Regions from separate parts of the Homo sapiens genome. Here all the other regions are linked to region 2. The links come from fine-mapping of genetic effects on gene expression. A gene starts in region 2. Each other region holds a variant in brackets. All regions are shown on one strand. Distances are between the middles of the regions. Region 1 overlaps ZNF667-AS1 (ZNF667 antisense RNA 1). Region 2 holds the start of ZFP28 (ZFP28 zinc finger protein). Region 3 overlaps ZNF470-DT (ZNF470 divergent transcript).

Region 1 (8,183 bases), 42 kb after region 2:
ATACGTCAGATGCCCCACTCTGCAAAAATCAATAATATCTAAGTAATAAGATTCCTCGGGACATGACCCTCCAGCCACATTCATCTGAAGAGAGTACAGATGTGAGGGGGAAAACTCCTGATAACATGTGCTGTCCCAAAGGTTTGTGTGAGTGGAGGATAAACTAAAGATACGTGTTTGCTGCAGTTAAGTACATCATTTTCTGGCATAGCAGAGAGTAGCCAGATTCACAGCAGAAACGACAAAGTCATTGACTCTAAATTAGAGGACACTTAAGTTTAGCTCCTACATTGCTACCTGCATTCTCTTCACAATTCACAATCTATTTCATCACAGACAGAGGTGAGACTCATCTTCAATACTGTATCTCACACAACACCCACTGCTCTGTATCAAGGCTGTAAAGGCAGAATTCCATTTCTCATGCAAATGAGGGAAACAGGAAAAGAATACACGTGTGTAAACGGTAAGTAATACTGTTCAAGACAATTGCAATGGGGGAGAGACAGTGAACTCAACTCCCCAATATAGCAACAACAGTTGGTTTTGTAGCCAACTATAAGAGTAAGGGGGTCAATGGGTGGGAAATCACAAACAGGAACTTGATTAGGTATTAAGGGTAGAATCCTGCTAAAGGCAGGCCAAGGACTTAGACATTAAGGGTGGAAGATGAGGAACCTGATCAAGGATAAGGGAATTCTCACTAAACCTACTTAACAGGATTCTTGCTAAAACTGGGTGCAGCAAGGATGGACACAGAAATCCAAGGTCCAGGCCTACTCAAGAAGAGGGCTCAGGGAAGCCTAAGAAAAGTCTGGTCAAGGAGAGGTCTGGGGCTCAGGAGGACTTACCAGTTCCACCGGAGGAGAAGCTTGAACTCAGTGGGACTTCAATGGGCCCCTGCTGGTACCTTAGCTCCGGTTTCAGGCAACTCCTTAGGGGTCCTGAGTCTTCTCTGAGGCCCCACGTTTGGGCGCCAGATTATTGTTGACGAAGAGTCAAACTCTGTAAAATATTTTAAGAGATTTATTCTGAGCCAAATATGAGTGACCATGGCCCGTGACACCGCCCTCAGGAAGTCTTGAGAACATGTGCCCAAGGTGGTTGAGGTACAGCTTGGTTTCATAGATTTTTAGGGATGCATGAGACATCAATCAAATACATTTAGGAAATACATTGTTTAGGTTCAGAAAGGCAGGACAATTCAGAGTGGTGGCTTCCAGGCTATAGGTAAATTTAAACATTTTCTGGTTGACAATTGGTTGAGTTTATCTGAACACCTGGGATCAATAGAAAGGAATGTTCAGGATAACATAAAGGATTGTGGAGGCCAAATTTTATTGTGCAGAGGAAGTTCTCAGCAGACTTGAGAGAGAGAGCAGGTTGTAAAATGTTTCTTATCAAGCCCAAAAGGGTACCTGGCTCTTAGTTGATTATCTCCTGGATCTGGAAAGAAATGAAGGAAAACAAGGGGGAAAGGAGATTCTCTATAGGATGTGGATTTTTCCCAAAAGAGACTTAGCAGGGCAGTTTCAAGGTATGGCAAGGAAATATATTTTGGGGTTAAATATTTTTTTCCTGGTCTCATAATGTTATGCCAGAGTTATACTGAAAAGTAACTCGTGATGCGTAGGGCCAGACAAAACCCATCTGATGAGAATTTATAGTTTGTAGGGCATGACTCCTTAGACCCCTTAGGTAGGAATTTGGGCAACATAAAAATATCAGAGCTTAGTCCTCATAGCATAGCATAAAAGTCTAGTTCTTTTTTTTTTTTTTTTTTTTTTTTTTTTGAGACAGAGTCTCCCTCTGTCGCCCAGGCTGGAGTGCAGTGGCACAATCTCAGCTCCCTGAAACCTCCGCCTCCCCAGTTTAAGCAATTCTCCTGCCTCAGCCTCCCTAGTAGCTGGGACTACAGGCACCTGCCACCACACCTGGCTAATTTTTGTATTTTTAGTAGAGATGGGGTTTCACCATGTTGGCCAGGACGGTCTATCTCTTGATCTCGTGATCCACCTGCCTCGGCCTCCCAAAGTGCTGGGATTACAGGTGTGAGCCACTGTGCCCGGCTATTTTTTATTTATTTTATTTTACTTTATTATTATTATTATTTTTTGAGATGTAGTCGCGCTCTGTCGCCCAGGCTGGAGTGCAGTGGCACGATCTTGGCTCACTGCAACCTCTGCCTCCCGGGTTCAAGCCATTCTCCTGCCTCAGCCTCCTAAGTAGCTGGGACTACAGGAGTGTGCCACCACGCCCAGCTAATTTTTTTGTATTTTTAGTAGAGACAGAGTTTCACTGTGTTAGCCATGGTGGCCTCAATCTCCTGACTTCGTGGTCTGCTCATCTCGGCCTCGCAAAGTGCTGGGATTACAGGCGTGAGCCACCGCGCCTAGCCTATTTTTCACAGTATAAAATTCAGTGGCCTTGTTATAATCAGAGTTATGCAACAGCCACCACAATAGTTGAGAATACTTTAACGACTAAAGAAATCCTACCCACTAGCCATTACTTTTTATTCTCTTCTCTCGCCAGTCCTTGGCAACCACCAATCTAATTCCTCTGTTTATCTATTTGCCTACTCGGGACATTTCATACAAATGAGATCACAATATGTGGTGTTTTGTGTCTGATTTTTTTTTTTTTTTACTTAGCATAATGTCTTCAAGGCGCATCTAGATTGTAGCATGCATCACTATGTCCTTGATTCAACATATCCCACTAAATTAAAGGGTCAGTTTAGAAACTGATTAAGCCTGTTTGAGCCTATAGTTTCCTTGTGTAAACAGATAATGCATCCACAGTGCTTTGTACCATAGAACATGGGTTGATGTGATGGTTAATTTCAGGTATTAACTTGAATGGATTAAGGAATATGTATGTAACTGGTAAACATTACTTCTGGCTGTGTCTTCAGGGTATTACCAGAGGAGATTGGCTTATAAATCAGTGGACTGAGTGGGGAAGATACACCCTCAACATGGGTGAACACCAGGCTTACCTTCATGATCTATAAATAGCCTTCAAATCAATGCTCATCCACATTTCTTTGACTCACTATATATTTAAGTAAATAAAACCTCTTAATTACTTTTGTTCTGCCTTATCAGCTAGTACACATGTGATTTTAGCTGGATGTACAGAATGAGATCAATTGTTTTGTGGGGTCTCTTTTGTGAAAGGGCTGTATATGCAAAGCATTCCCCAACACAGGAGTCAAGAAACCAAAGAATGAGGTAGACAAATCTAGTATGTGCCTGTAATCTCAGCACTTTAGGAGGCTGAGGTGGGAGGATCACTTGAGGTCAAGAGTTTAAGATCAGCCTGGTCTCTTTATTTTCTCATCTCTGCAGAAAATAAGAAAAGTTAGCTGGGCTTGGTGGCGCACCTTGATGGCACACCTCCTGAGTAGTCCCAGCTACTCAGGAGGCTGCAGCTGAAGGATCGCTTGAGCCCAGGAGGTCAAGGCTGCAGTGAGCTATGATGGTGCTACTGCACTCCAGCCTGAGTGACAGAGCAAGACCTTTTCTCAAGAAAAAAAAAAAAGGCATTGGCTAAATCTAATACAGATGATAAGTACCTATAGTTTGTATAGTTGTTCTATCACTTAGATGATATTAGGCACAACAGGGTATATGTCAGCAAATACCTTATTGAATTCCCTGTAGTCTACTGTCACGTGCCCGGTGCTGTCAGATTTCCTTTCCCAGTCACACAGAACTCCTGAAGGGACTCTGGGCTGGCCGACTAATATTAACTTTGGCTAGTTCCTCTATGGTGGCTGTCATTTCTTTTATTCTGCCAAGAAAATAATTTGTTACTTCACACTGATGATACATCATGGGGGAGGAAAAAGTACAGGTGCCTATTTCACTGCCACTCTTTAAATAGTGTTTACCACCCAAACTCATTGGTGGAATTCCCCCATGGACGTTTGCAAAGTGCATCCTTAAAGGATGTCCATATCCAACATGTTTTCTGGAATAGGTGAGATAAAGACAGTATAGTAAGCAGGGAAACTCCACCATCCAATACCAAGAAGGGGAGGAGTTTGTTCCACTTGGATTGTTTGTCCCCAGTAACCATCTAGAGCTGTCCACTTACCAGCGTGTCTCTCTGGGCTTCCAAGAACTAAGGTGCACTCTGCACCTGTGTCCACTACAACTAGTGTCCTCTGCATGTGTTTTTCAACTCTGATATTGTGAGCTCCACATGGAGCCTCTAGTCACCCTCTACTGCTCATCCCTAGAGGCAACCTTGCCCCCCTTCCGCCCCCTCCCACCCCCGCCCCCCGCCCCGCAGTCTGTAGGCTGGATAGGAGTCCAAGGCTGGA[G/A]CAGAGACCGGAGTTCTTTTTTAATACATAGTTTCATCTCCTCCATCCTCCTTTTCTGGCCGGATGCTGGGAAAAGGTCTAAACAGTTGGGCGGGAGTTAAGTCCTTTCAAATGCCCACCAACATGGCATGAGGTTGCTGATTCCGTTTCTTGGTTTATCCCAGCTGAGATCAGATTGTACCACATTTGTTTTCTGGTAATCCTAACTGGGTCTTTTAGACCTCCTTTTTCAAGTCCAACAGACTTGCTATCTCCTTTTCTTTTCCCTTGGTAACCAGTTGGACCTTATCCCTTCCCCTTTCAGTTTCTCCAAGACCAGCTACGGCATCCCGCACATAATATACATCTTGTCCTACAAGGGGACAACTGCAACTGCTGGTCATAGATGGCCTGCTGCATACCCAGCTCCCCTGAATTGCTCTGTGCCTCCTCCAGAGACCACCATGCCAGTGTCTGACCTGGGAAGTCCCCTTCACTGGGCCTCTCGCATAGCCACACCACCATCCATGTGGCTATGCTGTCTCTTGGCAGCTGCTTTAAGAGTTCTTGCTGTGTCCAATAGTTCTGCTGAGGTGTACTCTCAGAGTTAAGCTTTGCTGTGAAAAGACTGCTTGCTATTGTACAGCTGTATCTGTTGGGTTTTGTTTTCCTCCTGCCCTCAAAAGGGGAGGACAATCCTCCTACTCTGAGATAACCTCTGTCTTCATCTGACTCACAAGTCGATTCCCAAGGATTCCAGGTCTCAGCATCTTGGTCTGGTCTAGCAAGGACAGCTCACACTTGCAACCAGTGCAGTTTTTGTCCTCGCAGCTGCATAAAAGCGGCAGACAACAGTTTCCACCTGCACCTCCTGAGTTTCAAGCTTATGCACCAAATTAGATGCTAACACAGATGTGGAGATCCTCATATCCTTCTCTAACTGTAATTACTTCTCTAGCTTCTGTACCTTTGTCTCGGTTGCTAACTGTACTTCTGGGGTCACATGTGCAACCCATAATAGCGGCCACCCCTCTGTTGCCACCTTCAGGGACCTTCAGTGCATGGTGTGGTTTTCTTCTCACAAGCACTCTAGACCCTGTAGTGTTCTGGGCCATCCCCGTACTCAGGCGGTGGTCTGCAGGCATCCAGCAAACGGGCAATATCACCCCACACACACAGAGGGCTGCCCCAAGACTTCCCCAACTGAGGCTTCCTTCCCTTGCCCATACTTTGGCTCCTGAATTCCTCCTGGCTAGCTCACCAACAGTTTCATGAAAGAACCACATAGGGAAAGCAAATCCATACCAAAAAGGAACCAAGAAACCAAAGAATAAGGAAGACAAATCCAGTTTGTCAGTAGAAGGTGATTTATTGGAAAGTTTAGAAACATGTGGCAACAAGACAGGTAGATCTCTGCACTGTTACTCCCCAGACCGAGAGCTTACATACCATATAGAAAGAGCATAAGTGCTTCAGAAGGAATGTGTAGGATCGCTGAAATTGACCCCTCAGGGAAAGGCAAGAATGCTGTGTCTCATAGCCCATAATTTGCCAAAGGACAGGACTTAGGTAAGTACATGTTTATGATAACATCAAGGTTGTCTTGGCTTACACAAGCAACAGTAAGTAAAGTAGAAATCTTGAGGCATTCCTGGGCCTGGGGTTAATCAGAAGTCAACATGGCAGATTAGCATCCAAGATGAAGTGGCATCATCCTGCACAGTGTCCAACGTTGTACACTTGATTAGGAGGGAATAAACGAGATTGAGCACTAGGAGCAACAGTGGCAGGACACCCAACAGCCCAAAGTTGGAAGGAGCACAAGTGTTCACTGATGGATGAATGGATAAACAGAATGTGATCTAAACATACCATGAAATATTATCCAGCCTTTAAAAGGGGAGGAAGTTCTGATGCATGCTACAACATGAATGAACCTTGAGGACATTATACAAGTGAAATAAGCCAGGCAGAGAAGGATAAATGCTGTATGATTCTACTCATATGAGGTACCTAGAGTAGTCAAACTGATAGAGAAAGTAGAATGTTGGTTGCTAGGAGCTGTGGGGATGGGAAGATGGGAAGTCGTTTAATGGGTAGAGTTTCAGATCTGCAAGATGAAAAGGGTTCTAGTGATGGATGGTAGTGATGGCTTGCACCACAATGTGAATGTACTTTACTAACTGCACATTTCAACATGGTTAAGATAGCAAATTTTCATTGTGTTTTTTACCAGAATTTAAAAAGAAAAAAAGGGTTTTTTGTTTTTGTTTTTTTCAAAAAAGTCACAGGACAAAACAAGGTGAGAATGGTCTCATGAAAACCAAAGATATAGAGTGTTTCTAGAATGAAGGATTCATTGAATGCTGCTAAGAAAAAGATGAGATGAGGAATGAAAACATCAGGGGGACTAATGAACAGGGGCACTACTGCTGAAACCATACAGTGTCTTTAAGATGCAGAAGTAGGGTTGAAACCACACTGAAGTAGGTGACACTCTCTTCTTCCTTATCCGGGAATGAGTTGGTTGTTGGTGATCATCAGTCTGATCCACTCCAAGAGAGATCGTAGCAGGGTCCAGTCTGTGCTCTCCTGCGATCATTCGCCATGACTAGAAGTTAAAACTGGGCAAGAACATGTAGACAGTCAGAAAGGCTCATGCTTCTACTGCTCTCCCCTCCCCATTCAGGTCTTCTCCAAGTCATTAATTCCAAGGCCAAGGTGAGTTAATAATGGAATGTCCACCAGGCATGGTGCTCACGCCTGTAATCCCAGCACTTTGGGAGGCCGAGGTGTGCAGATCACGAGGTCAGGAGATCGAGACCATCCTGGCTAGCATGGTAAAACCCCATTTCTACTAAAAATACAAAAAAATTAGCCGGGTGTGGTGGCACAGCTACTTGGTGGGCTGAGGCAGGAGAATCGCTTGAACCCAGAAGGCGGAGGTTGCAGTGAGCCGAGATTGCGCCACTGCACTCCAGCCTGCATAACAGAGTGAGACTCCGTCTCAAAAAAAAAAAAAAAAGAATGTCCATGTGGACTACTTTTCTGACTGCCCTCAATATCTTTGTTTTAGAAACAAACTTAAAATGTGATTCAGTAAAGTAAGCAGATTAGAAAATCTTGTTCTAAGCTACAATGTCATATACAAGAGAATCTGCCTGGTATTGCCCCAGAGAATATTCAGTCTTCAGTTTTATAAATCCTGGCTGCACCCTCAACACAGAGGCACCCAATGTTGACAAGCCCATGTGGGAAGCACCTCAATTATAAGCCAGTACCTCTATTTGAGAGGAAATATAGGTTTGGTACTCACATGTGAAACCCAATTGGGTTTTTCTAACCATGATATTACCTATTCAGACCATGTCTTTCCCAGCTGAAAGGACTCAGATGCATCATTTCAGGAGCTCTACATAAAACCTCTAGCATTGAGTGACCCTGTGCTATAAAATGTGAATGTGTACTCATCATAGATTATAGTTTAAATCATATGGCATTAAAACCATCAAAACTGTATGAAACTCCCTTGAAGCATCTTAGGTGATGTGGTAGTAGCAGTATTATCAAGATATTATAGGCCAGGTGTGATGGCTCACACCTGTAATCCCAGTACTTTGGGAGGCCAAGGTGGGCAGATCACCTGAGGTCAGGAGTTTGAGACCAGCCTGGCCAACATGATGAAACCCCATCTCTATGAAAAATACAAAAATTAGCAGGGCATGGTGGCACATGCCTGTAATCCCAGCTACCCGGGAGGTTGAGGCAGGAGAATCGCTTGAACCTGGGAGGCAGAGGTTGCAGTGAGCCGAGATCACGGCACTGCACTCCAGCCTAGGCAACAGATAGAGACTCCATCTCAAGAAAAGGA
Region 2 (8,183 bases):
ATCCAAAAATAATTTTAGAAGTATTCCGATTTCACATAAGCTTAGGAAACCTTAATCCATGAGGCAAGAAAAACTTCTAGGAATGTATTCATACAAAATAATCAGGGGCTGGGCATGGTGGCTCACACCTACAATTCCAGCTCCTTTGGAAGCCAAGGTGGGAGGATTGCTTGAGGCCCGGAGTTTGAGGCTGCAATTATCTATGACTGTGCCACTGTACTCCAGCCTAGGTGACAGAGTGAGACCCTGTCTCTAAAAGCAAAAAAACAAAATAAAAAAATCAGGGACGAAGCACATTTTCAGGTATAAAAATGACTATTCTAACACTATACTAAATATCAAAACACTGGCCACAAGAGAACTTTAAGACTATATTCAAACATTCATCCACCAAATATTTTCTGTATCAGACATTAGGCAAAACTGCCCCAAATCCTTGCCTATGAAGTAAGGAAATGAGACAAGAGAAACTGAGATAAATTAAGTAAAATACATTTGACCTTCGAACAACATGGATCTGGGCTGCAAGGGTCCACCTATATGCAAATTTTTTCAACCAAATGCAGACTGAAAATACAATTATTGTCTGGGCGCGGGGAATCACACCTCTAATCGCAGCAATTTGGTAGCCCAAGGCGGGCGGTTGCCTGAGGCCAGGAGTTCGAGACCAGCCTGGGAAACATGGCAAAACCCCATCTCTACAAAAAATACAAAAATTAGCTGGGCATGGTGGCACATGCCTGTAATTCCAGCTACTTCGGAGGCTGAGATGGGAGCACTGCTTGAGCCTGGGGAGGTCAAGGCTGCAGTGAGCCGTGATGGCACCACTGCACTCCAGCCTGGGTGACAGAGTGAGACCTTGTCTCAAAAAAGATTATTTGTGGTATGGAAAACCTGTGTCCACTGAGGGCTGACTTCTCATATCTGCAGGCTCCACATGGCTGATGAATAAGTGCAAATTTTGGTATACGTGGGATTTCTGTATATAGTATGTTGAAAAGTACTACGAGGGCCAGGCACAGTGGCTCATGGCTGTAATCCCAGCACTTTGGGAGGCTGAGGTGGGCGGATCACTTGAGGTCAGGAAATCGAGACCAGCCTGGCCAACATGGTGAAACCCTGTCTCTAAAAAAAAAAAAAAAAAAAAAAAAAAAAAAAATTAGCCAGGTGTGGTGGCTACTCGGGAGGCTGAGGAAGGAGAATCATTTCAACTCAGGAGGCGGAGGTTGCAGTGAGCCGAGATCACGCCACTGTACTCCAGCCTGAGTGACAGAGCAAAACTCTGTCTCAAAAGAAAAGTACTAAAAGAAAAAAGCAAAGCAGGGAAGAGGGATGTGAAGAACAGGTAGGAGGCTCTGAAATTCTAGACAGGGTGAGCAGGAAAATGAGAAGGCGATTTTTCAGAAAGAAGAGAGTGATGTAGATGTCAGGGGTAACAAGGAGCCAGGTCATGTAGGGCCTGGTCAGTAACAGGAAGAGTTTTGGCTTTTATTCAGAGAAACCACTGGAGGGTCCTGAGCACAGCGTGACACAAGGTGACATGTTTGAATAGACCCCTCTGGCTGCTCATCGGGAAGGGGCTGTGGGGAGCGTGAGCAGAAGCAGGAGGTCACAGAAGCACAGTCAAGAAGCCCACAGTAAAAGGAGGACTTGGACCTGCTGCTGGTGATAGATGTGATGAAAACTGCCAGATTCTGCACATAATTTGCAAATAGAACTGACAGGATTTGCATCAGGACCAAATATGGAAGGAAAAGGCAAGAAATGAGCCAATCATGACAAGGCTTCCGGACTGAGTAACTGAGAGGATGAAACGGCCACTGACTAAGACTCAAACTGTGGGAGGAGCTGGTTTATGGGAGACTCTCAGGACTTCGGGTCTGGACAGGCTGTCTTGAGTTACCCATCAGACACTCAGGCAGAGGAGTGGAGCAGGATACACAGGCCGGCGGCTCAGAGGAGAGGTTTGGGCTCACAATGTGAATCTGGGAGGAGCCACCATGTGGGTAGGTTGTACAGACAAGGAACAGGCTACTATCCCCAGGAGACAGCATGCAGACAAAAAAAGAAAGGGCCATGAGCAGAGTGCTGAGGCACACTCTGTTCAAGTCACGGAGGTAAGAACTGTGGCAAAAACTGAGCAGTCAGGAAGATGAAAGTCAGATGAGTGTGAGATCCCAGTAGCCAAGGGAAAAAAGGGGGCCTATTGAAGGACAGGGATGAGCTATTTGAGGGATAGGTAGCCACCTGTTTTGTAACTGAAGTTTTACTGGAACACAGCCCATCCATTCATTTACATATTGTCTTTGGCTACTTTAGCTCTATAAGAGCAGAAAGGAGTAGATGCAGCAGGACTTTCAAAGCCTAACATATTTTCTGCTGTGGCCTCATCCAGCACAAGTTTGCCAGCCTCTGAGCTATTTCAAATACCAATGATAGTCAAAAAAGACTAAGAATTGAGCACTGCATCTGGTAATGTGAAGATCACAGTAACCCACTCAAGAGCAGTTTGGGTAGGACAACTGGAAGCTGGTTCATCTGTACATATATTTTTTGAGGCCTCAGTGGAAGTGAAATGGTTCATCTATTAATGAGCTAGCTATGATATTTATAGGAGAAGCCAACCGAAACAAACACAACTATTTACTGGCATGTTTTAAAGCCACAAAATCAAGTGGAAAAGCCTTTCATATTGCGCCTCCTCTCCCTAAAATGTTGTCTTTCTTTACTGTGCCTCCCAAACATCTTCTCTCCCTTCAAGGCAAGGCTCAAAAATCACCTCCTTGGTAAATAGGCCTACCCTTCCGCTACAGGAGGCTGGAAGCCAGGAGCGCCTTGTAGTCCTCGCTCATAATACTTGGCCCAAGGATGATCACATTCTAGAATCTTGCTTGTTTCCTTGACATTGGGTCAACAGGCTGTGAGCTCCAGAGCAGGGACTAGGGCTTAGCTATTGGTTTGCTCAGTGGCTGGCACAAAGTGGTCACCAAACAAACCATGTATAGCAGAAGAGTCTGCCGTGTTCCTCAAGGGGCACAATTCCTCCATCAGAGTCCCTCTGAGAAAAGCGGTACAAGGGAGAGGCTGAATCATTTCATCAATCAAGAATGAAGGCTGATTGGGATGAAGAAGAAGCAGGCATCGAGGCCCCGGGCAGTTTAAACTTTTCCCCGTAGCCCATCACTTCACTAGAACGTGAAGAAATAGAAACCCGCGCCCAAACAGGTCTCTTAAACTGAAAACTTTCAAGAAAATAAGCAACATTAAGTCCCGAAAAGCAAGACTGCATTTCAGAGACAAGAGATGAAATGCCAACTCACCTGGGACATGGCTTTAGGTTCAATTCCTGTCCCCACAGCCTCCAGCTTCTTGTTTCTCTCCTGGGGAAGAGCAGTGTCCCTGGAAGGCAGAGCTGAAAGAGAAAGGAGTAGCTAGAGACCAGGTCTACACCACAGTCCCAAATCACCAGCCTAGAAACGTCCCTTCCTGCATGAAAAGGTGGGATCAGATCATTACCCTGCCTAGGGACTGCCACAACGTGGAGATAGGTTTTTTTCCTCCCTGGGAGCACGAAAACAGGAAAAGCGTCTAGTTAGAGTCACCCTGGGAAAGTCAACACCCTTTTACCGCGGCTTGCTGCTCTGAATCAGTTGAGCTTCCAAATCTTCAGATTCTCCCACTCCACCAGCTTCAAAGACCAGGGGCACAGTTCTCCAGCAACTGGTCCCCGAGAGCCCAACCCCCTCCCAGATCTCATCCCGAGATGAATTCGTCCCTGTCCGCTCGGCCCCAAACACCTGTCACTCTCACCTCTGTGCCCAGGCCCCGTAGGGGCCGCTCCTCGCTGGCCTTTGGATGCGAGGCCATTCCTTGAGCGCGGCCTTCCCCGGGCAGGGAGGGCCAAGGTGGCTGGAGTCCCTACAGTCGGGCCTCGGCCCGCCCGGGGCTTTGTGCGGGGGGCGCCTCTACCCGGGAGCGGCGTCGGCTCGCGGACACTCGCGCTCGCCGCCCCCCGCATGTCACCCGAGGCCGCGCGACGCCCTTCCGACCGGTCCCTCACAGACCCACACCCCTGGCCACACCCGCCCGCCACGCCCAGCGAACAGCCCCGCGCGCGCTCCCCCATGGCCCGGCATCCACTGGGCCGCGCCGCGGAGCCGCCCCGCCCCCGGCCGCGCCCCGCCCCTCCCCACCCCTCCCCGCTGCCCCGCCCCGCCCCGCCCCGCCCCGCCCCGCCCCGCCCCGCCCCGCCCCGCCCCGCCCCGCCCCTCAGCCTAGAGAAGCCCGGCGCTTCCCACTTCCAGTGCGCAGGCAGCGCCGCCGGAACCGGGCGTGGCCTCGGCGCAATGCCCGCTGGGAAGCGTAGTCCCAAGCAGGGACGGATGCGGCGGCCCTCGGAGCTCAGGTTGCAAGATACGGTTTGGCCCCGGGCCTATGCAACGCCCGTCCGTCCTGCCCTCTGCGGGTCGCTCTCACTTGTCCCTGGACCGCAGCCGCCGCATAAGTGGTGGCCAACGCTGGGCCTGGGTGTGGCCGGAAGCAGAGGCCGCTCTGACTACACACCCACCCCCCAAAGGCTTCTGGGAGTCGCGCAGGCGCAGCGGCAGACCGGGTGAGGCGGGGCTTGCGGCGAGGGGTGGGACCGCAGGGCCGGAGTAAAAGGGTGCTTGGCTGTGACAGGTGCTAAGGGCCTGGGCGTCAGCTCCTTGCGGGAGCGTCACTGCCGACCGGGAAGGGAAAGGCAATCTTGGGGGCCTCCGGAGTCCGGAGGATCACTCTGATGGGTGATGTGTGTGGGCTAGGAAGGGGGATGTAGAGAGCTTGTGGGATTGTTTTGGGTGCCCCCTCACCTTCTCCCATTATCTCTGGCTACACGGGCCTCCCATCCTCCAAAATACCATTTTCCATTTTGTAACCTATGTATTTGCACGTCCTGGGTCGAAATAGTCTAACCCCAAATTTTCGTCTGGGCTGGCTCCTTTATGCCATTCACTTGTCATCGCCTCAGAGAGGGCTGCCTAACGTCTCAAAAATACCAGCCCTGGCGACCTCTTAAAGTTCCCTTCCTGTGTGAATCACGGTCTGAAGTTAGCTGATGGATTTATTCTTGAACATGTTTAGGACCGGTCTCTCCCCCAGGGGCCTTATCAGAACTGGAGAGCTTCATCCTGGGAGCCAAGGGCCTTGCTGGCTCACAGGCAGTGATGCTGTTACACCAGTCATCACAGATGCACTGACCTCTGCACGCCCAGTCACACTGCACGCCTGGTCTCCTTACTCTTGAATTGATTTCTTTCAGGTCTCCTGGCCTCAGTGATGGAATTAAGATGACTTCTATCTCTGAATCCAAGGGTGACTGAAAGCCGCAAGCTGCAGAAAGGACAAGGTCAGCATTTCTCTCAAAGCACTTCAGTCTCATAGAAAAGGCTTAGTTTCAGTCAGGTGGACCTAGCCATGTAATAGCTGTGGCAGACACTGCTAATGGTCTCTCTGGTGTCTATTTTGCACTCCTTCCACAGCAGAACATTGATGCTCTTCAAGTGGCCATCTGCCCAGCTTATAATACTCACCTCCCCAGTCTCCTTGTAAGGAGTAGTGGCTCTGTAACCAATGAATTTTAAGTACACATTTGCTGGGGGTTTGGTGGATGTGTGGAAAGAGACACAGCTGGCATGTAACTCTGGCCTTTTGTCATCTCACACAACCTTCTTCCTGCTTGGGTATGACACAGGATGTCAACAGGTAGAACAGCTGTAGAGAGCTGGCAAAGGGATCGTGGCCAACTCAACATTCCACTGGAGGCTATATGATCAAACAGCAAACTGTTTATCATGAATGCAGAATGTGGGCAAAGTCGCTTCTGCTCCAGCCACCAGAAGGTTTGCTGAAGGCAATCACTCCCTGGTGTCATGCTCCTTGAGGTTATCTAATGGGACATCTAGAGCCTATTGGTTGACGAATGCAGTCTTGCAAGCCTGCTGTAAATCAAGCTACTGACCGACAACCACCCCCCTTCTCCCTATTCACTCTAATAAATACGAAGGGCTGTAAAGGCTCAGGGCCTGTGTTCACTGGAAGCAAGGAGCCCCCAGACCTCTTCTTCCAAATATACTCTTTTGTCTTTGTCTTTATTCCCATGTTTGTCATCCTTTGTTCAGTCCAACAAGGATAGGGTCCGCTGCAAACAGCCACCTTGGCATCATGAGGATGAAAGTTATGCTAAAGATGGCTTAGCAGAAAAAAAGAGAAATAAACAATCAAAGAAATGGTATTAGAAATGAAAAAGTGGACATAATCACAGAAATTTTTAGAATTTTGCAAATACTGTGATCACCTTATCTCAATATATTTAAAACATATGCAGGGGCTTACCATAGAGAAAATTATAAGTACCAAAACTGACTCAAGAAGAAATGGAAAATCATTAAATAAGTTCTCAGGCTTTTCCATGAATACCAAAGCAATAAATAATCCTTATCCTATAAAACTATACTGGAGAATTTAAAACTAGACACCCTTGATACCAAAACTGGACAAGGACAGTAGGGAAAGAATTTAAGTAGGGAAAGAATTCCAATCTTCAGGGACAACATACACATTAAAATCCTACCTAAAGTGACAATAAACAAAGTCCAGCAATACATAGAAAAATATGTCATGTCCAAGGAAGATATGTCAGAATACTTTCATGTTCTGGAATGTAGAGGCATCACCTATGTGGATAAAGACAGCATCCTGAGTTGATGGAGAAATGGCATAGAAGGAACCAGGTCCTTTGATGACATCATGGAGCAAAGCTGTCTTCTTGCCTTGACCTGCTACCTACCTACATGGGAAGCTGTTACTTGAGAAGGCAATAAAATCTATCTTCTTTATTGACAGAGTTGACAATACCTTTTTTATCTTATTGTAGCAGTCACTTATCCTCAAATGACTGCTATATCCTATTTTCCTATTATATGGGGCTATATGCGTCCTTGTTCATATTTAGCAGAGAAGCAACAGAAGCACACTAAAGAATTATGAAGAAAAATATTTCAATATATCCAAATTTTTAGAGAGCTATAAGAATAATTTCATTATTAAGTTCTCCTGCAGCAGGAAGTTGACAAAATATCTCATCTTAACCACCAGGAGTTACACTGTGCTTTTTTTATAAACCCAAAACTATAGCTTTTTGAAAAACAGAAACCAACAAGAAAGATGAATAATCTCCCGGCTGAATCATTTAGATTAAGCTGATACAACTTATGAACTACTGCCAATCTTCACATTTGCCATATTTATAAATTGTTTTATTAATTTTTTTAAAAATTCAGTATAAAGAGTAATATATACTCACAATAGGCAAAAATAAAATTTATAGCACAAAGAAAGGATGTCATATGCTTAGGTGTCAGATGTTTAACAAACAGAATGTACAACATAATGACATTTGATTTGGGAAATAATACTTAGTCCAATGAATTTAGTTATCCAAGGAATCTACTGATTAAAAATATGAATTTTCTATAAAATCATAATTTCTGATTCTATATTTTTCTCTGGAGAGGTATTTTATGTTTTATGTCCATAGGGCCTTACCACATCATGGGACATAAGTCTTTCCTTAGTCACTCAGGAATAGCCTTGTGATATCTGGCTAAGATGAAGGGCAGTCTACTCCTGTCACTGGGAATTCAGTCAGCTTTCGATGAATCATCTGAGGGTGGAAGAGACACCTGAGCACAAGTTGAGTTTTGTTAGAAAAGACAAAAAGGAGACTGGATGCCAAGCAGGTAACCAACAGTACATACTGCCAAGAAGTTATCACAGGAGTGCCACGGTGGGGAGCCTGTTAATATCATTCACCACTATTAATAAATAAGGATGAAACAGTTCCTGGAATCATCTCAATAGATGATTGAGATAAAATGCAGCTCACACCTGTGATTTTAAAAAGAAAAAGCCTTAGCAAACTAGGAATGGTGGAGAGCTTCCTTACTTGGATAAGAAGATGGAATAAAATTATTATAAACCCCAAATACTTTCATTCAGCTTTGGTTAAAATGGTCTGTCAACATCAGACTGGAAAGCAAAGGTTTCCATAGGTAGTCCTGAAAATGGAAAGCAGTGGCATAGACTTTGTCTTTTATTATAAATAATATTTACTCATAACTTATTATTAATTGGAAAATGGAAAA
Region 3 (8,183 bases), 22 kb before region 2:
AGACAACATGCAAGAACAGATGGGTAATGTAAGCAGAGAGATGCAAACTGTAAGAAGGAATCAAAAGGAAATCCTAGCAATTGAAAACCATTGTAACAGACATGAAGATTACCTTTAGTGAGCCCCTCAGACTAAGACACTCTGAGAAATGAATGGGTGAGCTTGAAGATATGTTAATAGAAATTTCCCAAACTGAAATACAAAGAGGAAAAAAAAAGAATGAAAAAAGAAAAAGAACAGAATATCCAAGAACCATGGGACAATTACAGAAGGTGAAATATATGCGTAACTGGAATACCAGGAGGGGAAGAGAGAAAGGAGAGAAAATATTTGAATAATGACTGAGAATTTTCTAAAATTAATGACAGGACACCAGGCCAGTGTGGTGGCTCATGCCTGTGATACATACCAGCACTTTGGGGGGCCAAAGTGGGAGGATTGCTTGAGCCCAGGAGATTGAGACCAGCCTGGGCAACATAGTGAGACCCCATCTTTAAAAAAATACAAAAATTAGCCGGGTGTGGTGCTGTGTAATTGTAGTCCCAACTACTCGAGAAGCTGAGGTGGGAGGATTGCTTGAGCAAGCCATTATCCTGCCACTGCACTCCCTCCTGGGCAACAAAGCAAGACCTTGTCTCTAAAAGCAAGAAAACAAACACCAAACCACAGATCTAGGAAGATCAGAGAACACAAAGCATTATCACAAGTCACCTTTTGACATTATCACCAGCACTATTCAGTCCTTTTAATTTCTTTCAATCCTTTTTGTTTCAGATTAAATAATTTCTATCTATATTCAACTTCATTAACTATTCTGCCACCTCAAATTTCCTGTTAAACCTATCCAGTGGATTTTTACTTTCAAACATTGTATTTCTTAGTTTTAGAATTCCCATTTTCAAACTGATTTACTCATTTGCTGAAATTCCCATCTGCTCATCCATTAATAGCATTTTCCTTTATGTCATTCAGAATAATTATAATAGGGGCTTTATCATTCTTGTTTGCTAATACCAGTGTTTAAGGATTTGTATTGCTTTCTTCTCTTGAATGTGGCTTATGTTTTCACATATCTAATAATTCTTACTCTATGAGTAACACACTGTAGAGACTCTGTTGTCTCTACAGACAAAAAGTCCGTCTGAATTTTGTTTTTAGTAGGCAGTTCACTGTGTTGAACTCAATCTCCAACTCTTGTCTCACTGAGACAGGTAATGCTAAAGCCTTTGTTGGGATGCTTGGAGTTTGTCCAATACTTGTATAGAAAAGGGACTGTCCAGAAATTTTGGGTCTTAAGTGCTGGTGAAGGCTAAAAGGATAGTGAGAAATACTCCATTAAAAACTGGAGGAAAGAGGGTCCTTGTTATGTAATGGCAGAAAGTTTAGCAGCCTGTTATTTGCAGCTAATGCAGGAAGAAGAACTGGGTGACGTAGCTAAGATTTTCAAGGAATGTGCTGAATGTCCTGTTGCTGTTGTTTTCTTGCTGCTTACAGAAACATGCAAAAGAAGAGATATAAATTGAGGGAATAACTGTTAACAAAGAGGACATTAGGATTTTGAAAATTCTTAGCCTCTGTAGGTGGCAAACAATGCCAAAAACAAGAAAGGGCTTCCAAGCAAAAATGAAATCCAAGTTACTGCTAGGAAAACTGGTCTAGATAAAAACTAAGGGCATGGCTGTAAAATCCAGAACCTCAGAAAGACCAAAGCTGGTATCTCAGTACTATTTAACCACACAAAAGCTCTGTAAAGAGATTAAGGCGACCTGACAGACACTCTTATTCAAATAATTAGGCCTCTAAGAAGCTTATCTCAAAGAGATTTGTGGCTGTGGCTTTTGTCTTGTGCAGTGAACCCCAATGAGGTTCTCATGAAGCCCACAACATTTTCAGAAGACTCAGTAGAAACTCTGCCAACTGGAGTGAGAGGGACAGAGACAGCACAAAATGAAGAGACGCCACTAGATTCCTAAAACTCTAGTAAGCAAGCTAAGAAAGCTATTGATAGCATTTGGAGAGATACCTAATGTTAAATGACGAGTTACTGGGTGCAGCACACCAATATGGCACATGTATACATATGTAACTAACCTGCACGTTGTGCACATATACCCTAAAACTTAAAGTATAATAATAAAAAAAAAGCTATTGAACTGCAAATGCGTTGCAGGAAAAAAGGATTCAGAGGGCAGAACCAAGAGTTCAGATGGTGGATAATTATCCCAGGCCATGTGACCTAATAAAGGAATTTCCAAACATTTGTCTGGTTAGATTTCAGAATTGCTATGGAGCAGTGATTCCACTGTATCGGTTAGGGGTGGTGGAGGAGGGGAGACAGATAACTTGTTCTTTATTTTCTTTAAGTCTAAAGGTCTGCAGATCAATACCCATACTTAAGAAAGTATATCTTATGGGCTTCATTAGCACCTGTACCTATGTTAGATGACAAGATTATTGACTTTGAGGTGATCCTGTAATGAGGTGAGACTCTGAGAGGGGCCTTGGAAGGAGTGAGTGTATTCTGCATCTGGAAGGGAAATGAATCACTGGGAGGTGGGGACGGAGGAAGACTGTGGTGGACAGCCATTACGATGTCTCTCAAAGTTCCCCACCTCCTCTTACTCAAACTATTTTGTAATCCCCTCCCCTTGAAGGTAGGCTAAACCTAGTGACTCCTAATTAACCAAATACAAAGATGAGGGGATATCACTTCTAATATTAGGTTACAAAAGGACTTCATCTTCTATCTTGGGCATCCTCTCCTGCTCACTCACTTTTCAAGGAAGCCACTTGCCATATTGTAAGCTGCCCTACAGAGAGGCCCACATGGAAAGGAACCAACATGTCCAGCCAAAGCCTGTAGGGAACTGAGTCCTGCCCACTTACTTGAGCTTGAAAGCTGATTATCCTCTAACAAAATCTTCAGATGACTGCAGCACTGGCCCACAGCTAAGACTGTAGCCATCTGAGAGACCTTGAGCCAGAGGCACCCAACTAAGCTGTGCCTAGATTCCTTCCCCAAAGAAACTGAGGTAATGAACGTCTATCTGTTTTCAGCCACTAAGGTTTGGGGATAATTTGTTACAACAACAGGCAACTAACACGCCATCACAGTTCCTACTCTATAACTCAGGGAAAATAGGAATTCTATCATTAGTCAAAGGTATTATATTGATTAGAATTATAGTAGCTGCTATTACAATTGAAATCCAAATATCATTACCTTAACACAATATAAGTTTATTTCTCACTCATATAATAATCCATTGCTGGTGTTCCTTGATGACTGGGGAGCTTTCCTCCAAATAGTGGTTTAGGGACACAGAGTTCTATCTTTCAGCTTTGCCATTCCATATGATTAAGATTCTACTTCCGTCTGGACAGAACATCCTTTTCTTAAAAACCAAGCCCTGAGTGCCATATTGCTTCTATTCACACCACACTGAAGAAAATTCATCTGATAGACAAAACTGGAAGCAAAGGTGCCTGGGCAGACACATCCCAGGATCAATTCCAGACAATAGAAAAGAACACAAACTTTTGGTGGTCATCTAGTCACATCTCATATCATAGATATCATTAACAAATGCACACCCAGGACCTGGAAAAATAGCCACAGTATGCATTTGTGGTCTCAATAGACCTTGTTCTAAGCTACGCTTGTATAAGAATTCTTCCATAAGCCCTCACTCTGCATAAATGCAAGTCTTTTTCGAATTCCCATGGAATTGTTCATAGAAATTTTAATTACAGTCATTCAGACTCCTGAATGACCCAGTCCTGTGCCACTGATTTAAGTCAATGTGAGATTTGGATGCCATGCCATGGAGTGTTTTTAATTAAAATAAAACCTTAGTGCAGTTTCAACGCTGGGGATCAATTATTAATTACAGTGGAAATATCAGAAATCAGAACACTCTAGAGTTCTGAGGTTTGTTATAACCTTTTTACTTTCTTCTCATAGTTAATGATTGCCCTATAATCCAGCCACTACACATGCCACAGTTCTACACAAATCGGATACCCTTTTCAAATGTAATCACTCATGAAAAGTCTCTGCACCTAAAGGTGGAGATATAGGGACATTTTTCAGTGCT[T/G]CTTTCATGTCAAAGGAATATGGAAAGGCTATTGGGCCCTGATGGGAACTTGCAGATGAGTGAAGGGCATGGACATAAATGATCCAATCCAGCATTATAAACTTCTGAATTCTTTCAGTCCATCTATATTACGCAAAGTAATTTCTAACCCTGAAAATACACTTGCAACAATGTTCCCTAGATTTTAGATGTTACAATTAATGAAGGAAATTAAATATTTCTGGGTGAGATTAATCTCTTTCCTAACTTTCTGTATTTCAAACTACAGGTCATACTAAGCTCTGATTTTGGTTACCAGCCAAGCAATAATGGTGACCATGTGAGAAAAGGGACAATCAAGTTTTCAGTCACAGGCTGGGTATGGTGTCTCACACCTGTAATCCCAGCACTTCAGAAGGCCGAGGCAGGCAGATCACTTGAGCCCAGGAGTTCAAGACCAGCCTGGGCAACATGGCACAACTATCCACAAAAAATTTAAAAATTCTGGGTGTGGTGGCACACGCCTGTAGTCTCAGCTACTCGAAGAGGCCGAGGTGGGAGGAACGCTGGAGGCCAGGAGATCAAGGCGGCAGCAAGCCATGATTACATCACTGCTCTCCAGCTTGGGGGATAGCAAGACTCTGAGAAAGAAAAGGAAAGAAAAGAAAAGAAGAAAGGCAGGGGAAAGGAAAGGGAAAGGAAGAAGGAAGGAAGGAAGGTTTGTTTCCAGTCACAAGGGAAGCATGGAGAGGAGAATCAGTGGGGAGGTTGCTTAAGGGTTGAGAGGGAGAGTCAAGGGAGAGTCAAAGTTTTGTAAGATCCTTGAATCCTTCTTGTTAGTCTCATTCCAATAATCCAAATTCCAGTATTTCCCTAATTGCTTAACAGAAGTGACACGGTTGTGAATTCAGTGTGGGGAAAAGAGAGGTCAGACTGTTACTGTGTCTATGTAGAAAGAAGTAGACATAAGAGACTCCATTTTGTTCTGTACTAAGAAAAATTCTGCCTTGAGATGCTGTTAATCTGTAACCCTACCCCCAACCCTGTGCTGGCAGAAACACGTGCTGTGTCGACTCAAGGTTTAATGGATTTAGGGCTATGCAGGATGTGCTTTGTTAAACAAGTGCTTGAAGGCAGCATGCTTGTTAAAAGTCATCACCACTCCCTAATCTCAAGTACCCAGGGACACAAAACACTGCAGAAGGCTGCAGGGACCTCTGCCTAGGAAAGCCAGATATTGTCCAAGGTTTCTCCCCATGTGATAGTCTGAAATATGGCCTTGTGGGAAGGGAAAGACCTGACCGTCCCTGAGCCCGACACCGGTAAAGGGTCTGTGCTGAGGAGGATTATTAAAAGAGGAAGGCCTCTTTGTAGTTAAGAGGAAGGCATCTGTCTCCTGCTCGTCCCTGGGGAATGGAATGTCTTGGTGTAAAACCCGATTGTGTGTTCCATCTACTGAGATAGGAGAAAACCGCCTTAAGGCTGGGGGTGAGACATGCTGGCGGCAATACTGCTGTTTAATGCACCAGATATGTTTGTGTATGTGCATATCAAAGCACAGCACATTTTCTAACCTTGTTTATGACACAGAGACATTTGTTCACGTTTTCCTGCTGACCCTCTCCCCACTATTACCCTATTGTCCTGCCACATCCCCCTCTCTGAGATGGTAGAGATAATGATCAATAAATACTGAGGGAACTCAGAGACCGGTGCAGGCGTGGGTCCTCCGTATGCTGAGTGCTGGTCCCCTGGGCCCACTTTTCTTTCTCTATACTTTGTCTCTGTGTCTCTTTCTTTTCTCAGTCTCTCGTCCCACCCAAGGAAAAACGCCCACAGGTGTGGAGGGGCAGGCCACCCCTTCATTCAGTAAGCATCATTGTTGAGCAAATAACTGCATCTACTGCTGCCTTTTTTAGCAAATACAGCCCCATGCTTAAAAGGAGTATGAGATTCTTCCCAACACAGACATACAGGTACTGATTCAATTCCTTAAGGCCAGAATTTCAAGTAGCCTTGAAATTTTAATTACCCAATTTCATTATAAACAGGTATCATATATACTTTTGGAAGTAGTATTCCTCAATACCTTTGTTTTTGGTAGGAGCTATCCAGACCCTAGTGCACAATGGGCTTAGGATCCTGCTATATCATGAATATCCTTTCACAGCACAAAATAGGATTAGGAATTCATCTGTGCTTTGATCTGTCTCACTGGACATCCATCTTGAATACTCTGCTTCTCTACAGTCTAGTAATCATTCTGTAGTATAAATTTCTGCATTGGCTAGCTCTCTTTGCTTGAGAACCAAAGTATTTGACTCTGACTTAAAATGAGAAATATTAGAATACCAGGTAGTTCACAGACTCAAAGAATTTAACTCAAAACCAAGATGTGAGAAAGCAGGAATCATCTCAATGGATCTCAGTGACAGGTGGAGGAATCCTTAGGTTGCTGCCAAAGGATGACTTAATTCAAACGAATTCCAGCCTAGGAGTCATATCCCACATACTTCACAGCAGGTATAATAAAGGTCCCACCAATCAAAATGAATATTGACTAAAACAAAACATCCATTCTGGCCATACTGGTTCATAAAGCTGAATATTGGCCCTGTTCCTGTCCCTGTGTCTCTAATCAAAATACAGAGAATGAATCTGGTTGTCTTACTTGGAGCATGTGTCACTGACAGTTCATCAGAACAATACAGAATGAAGAAAGGGAAAGTGCCCGCAAAATGCTAGGAAAAGTCTGTGTGTTAAAGACAAAACCAGATTTCAACATAGATACTGAGGCTGTGCATGTGTTTGTATGTACATACACACATATATATTCAGTATTAATTTTGACTCTATGACTAGGTCATTTTACCTGTAAGGTTCTGTAAACCACATATTTCATTAAATATGTTGTAGACGCCACTCCATAGAAGTGTATGTAGAGCTTAACTGCTTTCTACTAATCGCACAACACAGTACTGAATAACTACAATTTAGTCAATCCACTTGGCAGGGCGCTGAATTCTTATTTGTCATAATTGAAACAATTCTACAAGAAAACAATATTTATATCTACCTATTTATTCCAATGGGATAAAATTCCTAGATCTGGAATTACTGTTTGAAAAAAATTCACGTTTATAATGTTGATAGGTCATGCCATCCGAGGAGATAGGGGACGAAGTTACACTGCTAATAGTGATCAAGTACCTGTTTTCCCACACTAATACCATTACTGGATATTATCCAAATTTTATATTGTAATCTACCAAGAGCCAGGAAAATGTGGTTTCATTCATATTCTTCTGATTAATGAGGTTAAGAATTTCACGAATTTTCTTTATCCATTTGGATTCTTCAGGGTGATTCGCCTATCAGTGTGCATGGCAAGTTGTTCCCCACTGCTCTGTATATGTAACAGCATTCTGTTATTTTCTATAAGTTGTATACATTTCCCTTCAACTGTCTTTTACAAGTTTTTGGTGCCTTTCACCATGCTGAAGTTTTAGATCGTTGCATAGCCCAACTTGTTCTCGATTTCTTTATGGCTTCTAGGACTCCATGTCCTACTTGATAATACGTTCCTTTTTTCTACATTTGCCTCTAACATGTTATTTTATGATTAGATATGTCAAATATGATAGTCATATTTCTCTGTAAGGTGTAAATGTGCTTCTAACTTTTTTCTTGGAGAGGGTGGATAACCAATTGTCAAAACATAATTTTCCCGATATTGAAATAATAGTGCCATTATATACTAAAATCTCATATGCAAAGAAATCTATTTCAAAAATTTTGGGGAAGAGTGAGGCAGGAGAATCACTTGAGGCAAGGAGCCCAAGACCAGCCTGGGCAACAAAGCGAGACACAGTCTCTACAAAAAAAATATTTTAAGGTTACAGTGAGCTAGGATCTTAGCACTGCACTCCAGCCTGGATGATAGAGTGAGGCCTCCATCTCTTAAAAAAAAAAAAATTCTTGGCCGGGCGTGGTGGCTCATGCCTGTAATCCCAGCACTTTGGGAGGCCAAGGCGGGTGGATCACGAGGTCAGGAGTTCAAGACCAGCCTGGCCAAGATGGTGAAACCCCATCTCTACTAAAAATACA

What was found. PIP is the estimated chance that this variant, and not a neighbour inherited with it, causes the effect. A credible set is the group of variants that fine-mapping cannot tell apart.
Region 1: its variant is the best candidate, but not a certain one, in a credible set for the expression of ZFP28 in sun-exposed skin (GTEx, PIP 0.78).
Region 3: its variant is the best candidate, but not a certain one, in a credible set for the expression of ZFP28 in whole blood (TOPMed, PIP 0.85).

Annotation. Positions count from the first base shown.
Region 1 is chr19:56,492,916-56,501,098 of GRCh38, reverse strand. It overlaps ZNF667-AS1 (ZNF667 antisense RNA 1), which reads right to left. Exons shown (of 2, transcript NR_036521.1): 2 at 5,662-6,936. All of the region lies in intron 2 of LOC124904776 (a long non-coding RNA gene), which reads left to right. Among named protein-coding and RNA genes, the nearest start is that of ZNF471, 11 kb to the left of the region's middle. The variant G/A (reference allele first, on the strand shown) is at 4,334.
Region 2 is chr19:56,534,854-56,543,036 of GRCh38, reverse strand. ZFP28 (ZFP28 zinc finger protein) reads right to left here and starts at 4,089. Exons shown (of 8, transcript NM_020828.2): 1 at 3,811-4,089; 2 at 3,321-3,412. The coding sequence starts at 4,018. It overlaps ZFP28-DT (ZFP28 divergent transcript), which reads left to right and starts at 4,303. Exons shown (of 3, transcript NR_183967.1): 1 at 4,303-4,612; 2 at 5,300-5,386; 3 at 6,705-6,881.
Region 3 is chr19:56,557,090-56,565,272 of GRCh38, reverse strand. The region is part of intron 1 of ZNF470-DT (ZNF470 divergent transcript); the gene reads left to right. Among named protein-coding and RNA genes, the nearest start is that of ZNF470, 6.3 kb to the left of the region's middle. The variant T/G (reference allele first, on the strand shown) is at 4,098.